3 separate regions of the Homo sapiens genome follow, and regions 1 and 3 are each linked to region 2. Evidence: fine-mapped expression QTL. A gene starts in region 2. Each other region holds a variant in brackets. All regions are shown on one strand. Distances are from middle to middle.

Region 1 (2,846 bases), 23 kb before region 2:
TTCCAGGCATGTGCCACTATACCTAGCTTAGTTTTGTATTTTTAGTAGAGACAGAGTTTCACCATGTTGGCCAGGCTGGTTTTGAACTTCTGGCCTCAAGTGATCTGCCTGCTTCAGCCTCCCAAAGTGCTGGGATTACAGGTGTGAGCCACTGTGCCCAGCCTGGAATAATTTTTTAATCTTTAAAATTGAACAGTTTTATGAGATTTTATGTCAATATCGACTATTTTGTGTTGATTTTTCTAGACATTCAATGTGTCCTTCCACTATACAAGTTCAAGCTTATTTTATCAGTTTTCCTGAATCACAGTTTCTATTATCTGTTATTCCACTGCTTTTTTCTGGGAAGGGTGTGGGATGGCACTACGATTATACGTAAGTTTGATCTTCTTTGCCTAACTTCTTTATCCCTTCTCTGGACAACTTCTTCTCTATTTGTTTGAGTCTCCTCTGACTCCATTTTTCTCCTATCTCTTCCTTATTTACCTTAATGTATTTTCATTCTTGTGTTCCTGATTTTCATTTCAGAAATATCTGGTTTTTTTTTTCTTATTTCCTCCTGAGTCCTGTCAACTCTCTTCATATTTTTCTGTTGACTAGTCACTTTTAACCTGAGCTTTTTAAACATTTTTAATTTATACCATTCTTTAGTAGTTTCTGTCGTTTTTCTAATTCCTTTGAGATCACTCAGAAACATCAGGACACAGTTTTCATCTGCCTGGAGGAATGTTTTTCTGGTGTGCTTTCATTATCTGTGGGAGGTTATCTGGTTCACTTTCTCCCCGCAATATCTTTGTACAGGGTGTGATCAGCATCTTTTCCTGTTCTTTCAGCAGGATGTTCTACGTACGGGCAGTTGTGGGTCAGAGTAGCTTTCTGAACTCCACAGCTGGAGAGGCCTTTCCCCTGCTGTGGTCGGTCTGTGTAGTCCTTGCTCCTGTACTTTCTGGGATTGGCCACCTCTTTCTTGTATCTAAAGCTTTTCTCCTTTACCCCAAGTGTTCCTGCTCTGTTCAATCCCAGTCCTTTTTTTCTTGGGGTGAGCTCTTGTCTTTCAGAAGAGAAGTTTTTGTTAAGGGCATGGGTTTCCCTCACATTCTTGATCTTTCCTCAGCCGTATAATACGTCAGGCAGCGATAAGGCTGTGGGTAGAAATAAAGCAGGATTTTGTGCTTCCATTAATAAAAAAAAGCCTCCTCTATAAACTGGAGCCTGAGAAATCGGCTCCCAATTTCACTGGCTGTCTCTCAGATTCACTTGTTGAGGTTTCCATTTGCTGAGTAGTCTCTTGTGAGGGGTATTCTGGTGACTTCTGGATTCCTTGGCTCTTAGGACTATCAGAGCCCCTCTTCCTTCCCGCCATTGCCTCAGCACAGCTACTGGCTCTGTGTCTGCACAGAGTCATGCCACAGTTGGTGGTCTGGCCTCCAACTGTGGTGCACAGTTGGTGGATAGAGCATAGCACGGAGGTTCCTTGAAATATTAAAAATAGAACTGCTATACAATCCAGCAATTCCACTCCAGGGTATGTCCCCAAAAGAACTGAAAGTAAAGATTCAAACAGACATCTGTACACCCATGTTCACAGCAGTGTTACTCATAATAGCCATGAGGTGGAAGCAGTCCAAGTTTCAACAGTGAACAAAACGTGGCTTATCCATACAATGGCATATGATTCAGCCTTAAAAAAGAAATCTTGAGCACGCTACAACAGG[G/A]ATGAACCTGGAGGACATCACGCTGAATGAAATAAGCCAGGCACAAAAGGGAAAATACTATATGCTTCCACTTATGTGCATTACCTAGAATAGTTCAATTCAAGTCAAAAAGGTAGAATGGTGCTTGCCAGGGGCTGGGGGAGTGGGGGCTGAGGAGTTACTGTTTAATGGGTTCAGAGTTTCAGTTTTGCAAAACTGAAAAAGTTCTGTGGATGGATGGTGGTGATGGCATAGCAATGTCAATGTACTTAATGGTAAATGTTGTTATGTGTATTTTATCACAATAGCGTCTCCTGAATCTGACCCCTTCTTACACCTACACTGTTCCTACCCTTGATGCTCGACTCCATCATCTTGTGCCCCTGCTTCTGTGATGGGCTCCAGCCGGCCTCCTTGCTTCTATTCTTGCCACTCTCTAGTCCAGCACTGCCCAAGAGAGATGATGAGAGCCACAAATGTAATTGTAAATTTTCTAGTAGCCACATTGTAAAGTCCTAAAGTAAATTATTGAGATTAATTTTAACAATATATTTGACTTAATCCAATATATCCAAAATACTCGCATTTCAACAGGAATCAATTAAAAAATGATGGAGTGGCCAGGCACGGTGGCTCACCCCTGTAATCCCAGCACTTTGGGAGGCTGAGGCAGGTGGATCGCCTGAGGTCAGGAGTTCAAGACCAGACTGGCCAACATGGCAAAAACCCGTCTCTACTAAAAATACAAAATAAGCCGGGCGTGGTGGTGGACGCCTGTAATCCCAGCTACTCGGGAGGCTGAGGCAGGAGAATCACTTGAACCTGGGAGGCAGAGGATGCAGTGAGCCAAGACTGCCCCACTGCACTCCAGCCTAGGTGACAGAGCAAGACTCTGTCCCCCCCCCAAAAAAAAAAAGATGGAGGTATTTTACGTTTTTCTTTTCATACGAAGTCTCCAAAACCCGTGTACAGTGATCTGAACACTCACAGCACATTTCCATTGGCACCCGCTGGATTTCCAGTGCTCCATGGCCACACGTGGCTGCTGTACTAGACGGGGCACCTCTAATCCACTGTCAACATGGACGGCCACAGTAACCCCATTAACACGTAAACAGGTCGTGCCCTCCTCTGGTCATGACTCTTCACTGG
Region 2 (2,846 bases):
GAGAGGGTTCAAAGAAGGGTTCCCTTGGGGGGACCCTGGGAGCTCGGTCCCAGGGGACACGGAGAGTGAGGTGGAAAGGAGAAGAGCCCGCAGGAAGGAGGTGTACAGAGACCGGGCTGCACCTGCACCCGCCCGTTCAATGAGACGACCCACATAAGCCTGCCGAGCACAGCACAAGTGTTTCAAGTACACCAGCGAATATGACACACTGGCGCGCTGATGACACCCTGGCGCGCTGGCGGAAGAAAAGGTGCCGGTCCCTCGCTTTCTTCATCGGGCTTGCAGTAGCTTCGAGGTTAGCCACAGGGGCTGCCGACTGAACAGCTGGATCTAGGAGGCGGGTCCAGAACAGGAGCCCGAGATCCTTGAAGCCCACTGGGAGGGAACCCGAAGCTGAAGGGAACACTGAGTGTTTCTGGGAACAGAACAGTCTCTTCCACATGAAGAAACGTGGCCCAGGAGAAGCCTCCGTCTGCATCTGGCTATTAGCTGCTCACACTGAAAATCAGGATGATTCACAGAAAATGCTCTTGATAAACTGGACGACCTGGCAACACTGGGACCGCAATCCTGTAGGGCAACAGTCGGTGCCCCGAAGAGCACAGGCACTGAGCCCGAGCCAGCCGGGCTCCTGCAGTGCTGGGCGCAGGCCCTGGAGCATGAGGGGCCCCGGACACCACCTGCGGAGGGAGTGGCCTGTGGGCCTCCCCTGGATCCCACAGGCCGCACGACTCCAAGGGTGCCTGTCCAGCTTCATCCTGTGTGATGGTGGCACCCGGGCCCACAAAGGGCCACCTTGGCGAGCTTGCAGGAACACCCTGTGCCGCTACCCACAGCCTTGGGTGCGCAGCTCTGAGAGCAGCCAGGAGCAGGAAAGGTGGGGGAGGAGAAGCTGGGGGAATGGGGGTGCGGCCAGCTCCAGGGACCTCTGATCTTGCTAAAAGGGCGATACTTTGGTGAGATGGGCACGAAGAAGAGGGCAAAAGAAAACGTGCGCTGGCGTCACCTGGCCCCTTAGAGGCACCTGGGGAAACTGAGGTGGAGGATGAGGACAGGGCGGTCTCGCCAACTTTCGGCGGTGAGATCCCGGGAAGCTGCACGGCCCCCGGGGCTCGCGGGCGCCGAATCCGGGCAGAAGCCGCCGCCGGTCTCCACTTGGCCGCCCCAAGCCGACCTGAGGAGAGCCCGCCGAGGGCGCATTCGCCTCCCGCCAGCCCCTCGCCTCCCCGCCCCGGCCCCTCCGCGCCCGGCTCCCGGGTCCTGGCCTCGCGCCCCCGCCCCGCCGCGCGCTGGCGTGCGTGTCCGCCGCGACGCGCCGAGGCCGGGCCGGAACCGGACCCGCCCGCCGCCCGCCGCCAGCCCCGCCGCCAGCCCAGCCGCGGCGCCCACAGGCCCGGCCGCCCGCGCGCCTCTCACCCGTAAGGCCGCCGCCCCTGCCGTGGCCCCGGCGTCGCTGCAGCACGAAGAAGGGGTTGGCCCGCTCCGTCACCCACAGCGCATTGGCCACCAGCACCTCCTCCGGGCTCAGCCACATCGCGGAGCCGCTCGCACCGGGCCGAGGCCCGCGAGACGGAAGCGCCCGCCGCCGTCGGCGTCCCGGAGCGGAGCGTGCGGAGCGGAGCGTGCGGAGCGGGCCGGGGCGGGGCGGGGCCGGGCGGGCGGCGCCCCCTGGCGGGCGTGTGGCGCTCCCGCACGCGGCCCGAGTTCCGCGCCGCCCCCTCAGCCCCGGCCTCGGGCGCGCGCCAGCCTGGCCTCCTGGAGCGGTGCAGCCCACGGCCTCCGGCCTGGGTCCAGAACGGAACGGCCCAGTCCGCAGACAGGGGAGCCGCTGTGCAGAGCAGGGCTTCTGGCGTTTTGAAAGCTGTGCAGTGTGAGAGAAGGATGTCAAGAAGCAGAGTTTGGCGGCTTTTGGCTGGTTGCGCGTGCAACCCGGGGCGTGTTAGCACTGCAAAGGGCGCCTGGAAAGGGTTTGCAGTTCCTCCTAATTCTCAGCTTTCTTTTCTTTTTTTTTTTTCGACAGAGTCTTGCTGTGTCGCCCAGGCTGGAGTGCAGTGGCGCAATCTCAGCTCACTGCAACCTCTGCCTCCCGGGTTCAAGTGATTCTCCTGCCCCAGCCTCTTTAGCTGGGATTACAGGCTCCCGCCAACACGCCCGGCTAATTTTTTTGTATTTTTAGTAGAGACGGGGTTTCACCATGTTGGCCAGGCTGGTCTCGAACTCCTGACCTCGGGTGATCCGCCTACATTGGCCTCCCAAGTCCTGGGATTACAGGAGTGAACCATCGCGCCCGGCCAGTTCTCAGAATTCTGACACTGGGGCCGGGAGACTAGAAGAATCTTCCAGCGCAGGGCAGGTGCCAGGAGGCCCTGATACGGGCTGCATCCTTGGAAATCAGTGCTGCCCCTCCCCTGACAGACGGGTCACAGAGGCTGGCCGGCCCTGGGGATGGGGTCTGGACTGGCCCTGGGCCCAGTGGCGGCTTCTGCGCAAGTGTGAGGCTGGCTGCAGGCGAATGCGGGTCCCTGGTCTCCCAGTGTTGGCCTGCAGGGGCAGCGCCAGTCCACACACAGCCTTCTGCATGAGGGGGCTGTCAACTCCACCTGGGACAACGGGCCTGGGGCCTGTCCGGGGTCGACTGGGATGTGGGGTCACCCTGCTGGCTGGAACCCTCACCAGGGTCTGGCTAGAGGGCAAAGGGAAGGGGGCAGTTAAACCATCCTTGGAGCTGGACCTGACTTCCAGGTGGGTTTCTGTGATTGGCACTCAAGAATCTTGGTGCGATGGATGTAGGTACATGCAGTTGACACCCAGAGTGATCTGCAGTCTTCTTCAATGTTGCTGGATAT
Region 3 (2,500 bases), 150 kb after region 2:
GACAAGTCACATGGAAGAAAGCAACGTATCATTTCAGAGTTTACAAAATCCTGGGCAAACAAAGCTCAGTAACAAATCATCTTGATGAGAAAGAAAATGACACATTTTATGAAGAAAGCAGCAAGAACACACAAGACAAATTAAGCTTTAAGGAGGACTCAAACAAAACCTGAAAAGGCAAACACAAGATGATGGTACAGGCTTACACAGCTTTTCTTTAAAAAGCCCAGAAAGTTGAAGGTTGCCAGTAATGATAGGAACAAGCAAAGCTACTTCTCACAAAAGTTTTATTATTTTTTTAAGTATATTCAGAGCAAGAAGAGTTGGAAAGAAATAGGTTTACTGCCCAGGGCCAACTAAATGATGGATGGAAACATTTCTCAAGACTTTTTTGCTTTTGCTTTCTCTACCACAGAGAATAACCTGAGAACTGCAACAAGCACGGCTACATGACACTGACAATGAGTGCAGAGACTGTAAAAAAGCAAATACATTCTTTTTTTTTTTTTTTTTAATTTGAGACAGAGTCTCACTCTGTCGCCCAGGCTGGAGTACAGTGGCACGATCTCGGCTCACTGCAACCTCTGCCTCCCAGGTTCAAGCGATTCTCCTGCTTTAGCCTCCCGAGTAGCTGGGACTACTACACCCAGCTAATTTTTATATTTTTAGCAGAGATGGGGTTTCACTATGTTGGCCAGGATGGGCTCCATCTCTTGACCTCGTGATCTGCCCGCCTCGGCCTCCCAAAGTGCTGGATTACAGGTGTGAGCCCCTGCGCCCGGCCAGCAAATACATTCTTAGAATAGGTTTCTCTGTTACCTATTTTTACTTCATTTCAGTAGAACAGCTGTTTATATCTTATGCATTCATGCTGGTTTCTTCAATTAATCACTCATATTGTTTCTTGAGATGATTTGTAACGACCCAGCTTTCTTTGTCCTAGGATTTGCAAACTTAAAAAATGATACAATCGCTTTCTTCCCAATTTCTAGGCACTTTGCATTATATCACCAAATGCAAAGAATTCCTTCCACCCCGTGGCATGTCACCCTCCAGGCCAGGGTCAGATGCAGATGCCCACTTAGCTTTTGAGACAATGCACATTCCTTTCGCATCCTCCCTCTCCCTCTAACTTCTCCGATATCCAGTTGTCCCCGCACCCTTTACTGAAAAGACTATTCTTTCCCTCTATTGAATTGTCTGGGCACCCTTCTCAAAAATCAAGTGACAAAAGGGTTTCTTTCTGGTTCTCAGTTCTACTCCACTGATCTACCATGTCTCTATCAGTACCACACTGTCTTGTAGTAAGTTTTCAAATTGAGAAATGTGAATTCTCTTAATTTTATTATTTGTTTTCAAGATTGTTTTGACTACTGTGAGTCCCTTTTACTTCCATATGAAGTTCTGGTATTTTCACAGGATGGTCTGAATGTGTAGG[T/A]CAATTTGGAGGGCACAGGTACCTTAACAAAACAAGTCTTTGGACCTATGAACATGAAAAGTCTGTTTATTTACATCTTTAATTCCTTGCAACAGTGCTTTGCAGTTTTCAGTGCCAATATTACTTTAAATGATATTGTGAAATTTTTATTTTCTAATTGTTTGTTACTGGCATATAGAACTACAACTGACTTAATTTTTGTTTTATTGATCTTTTATCTATGGGTGTTCCTAAATGTATTTGAGTTTTTAAAAAATTACTCTGCTGGTTATTGGTAACAAGAAATAAATTTTGGCCAGGAGTGGTGGCTCACACCTGTAATCCCAGCACTTTGGGTGGCCAAGGCGGGCAGATCTCATGAGGCCAGGAATTTGAGGCCAACATGGTGAAAACCCATCTCTACTAAAAATACAAAAATTAGCCAGGCCCTGAGATCGAGCCACTATACTCCAGCCTGGGCAACAGAGTGAGGTTCTGTCTCAAAAAAAAAAAAAAAAAAAAAAAAAAAAAAAACAAAAAAAAACAGCAAACAAACAAAAAATGCAATTTTTTTTTTCTTTGAGAAGGAGTCACTCTGAGCCACCATGCCCAGCTAGAAGTAAGTTAAGTTTTACTGGCATTTAATTAAGGATTAACACTGGCTGCTTTCCTCAACCTGAATGTCAGATGACTTTGTGTGTGTGTGCGTGTGTGTGTGTGTGTGCGCGCGCGCACGCGTATGTGTCTGTGTGTCTGTCTGTCTCATGTGGTATACCAGTTGTCCTAAATAAAGAGAGGGATTTCTGAAATGCAACAGGGATGGTAGTGACTCTCTCATTCATCCGTTTGTTTTCAGATAATACTGCCAACAGTATAATAGCCATACACTACTCAGTTACAGGATTTACAGACGAAATGATCCACTTTTTACTAAATTGTCCCTCATCAAATGGACAAATGCCTTTTTTTAAAAACCCCAGCAAAAATAAACTGGTAGAGCTGATACTTCTCTCTTTTTAGCTACTATAAAGGGTTAAAAAACAACCATCACCATTACAACTGGTGCGTGGCTCATGGCTGTAA

The links. PIP is the estimated chance that this variant, and not a neighbour inherited with it, causes the effect.
Region 1: its variant is fine-mapped to the expression of TBC1D9B in ovary (GTEx, PIP 0.99).
Region 3: its variant is fine-mapped to the expression of TBC1D9B in whole blood (INTERVAL, PIP above 0.99).

The regions. Positions count from the first base shown.
Region 1 is chr5:179,882,996-179,885,841 of GRCh38, forward strand. All of the region lies in intron 7 of TBC1D9B (TBC1 domain family member 9B), which reads right to left. Among named protein-coding and RNA genes, the nearest start is that of TBC1D9B, 23 kb to the right of the region's middle. The variant G/A (reference allele first, on the strand shown) is at 1,716.
Region 2 is chr5:179,906,288-179,909,133 of GRCh38, forward strand. It overlaps TBC1D9B (TBC1 domain family member 9B), which reads right to left and starts at 1,610. Exons shown (of 21, transcript NM_015043.4): 1 at 1,417-1,610. The coding sequence starts at 1,534. RefSeq lists an enhancer at 564-1,341 and silencers at 1,222-1,271, 1,322-1,461, 1,472-1,531, 1,602-1,761.
Region 3 is chr5:180,053,330-180,055,829 of GRCh38, forward strand. All of the region lies in intron 1 of RNF130 (ring finger protein 130), which reads right to left. Among named protein-coding and RNA genes, the nearest start is that of RNF130, 17 kb to the right of the region's middle. The variant T/A (reference allele first, on the strand shown) is at 1,439.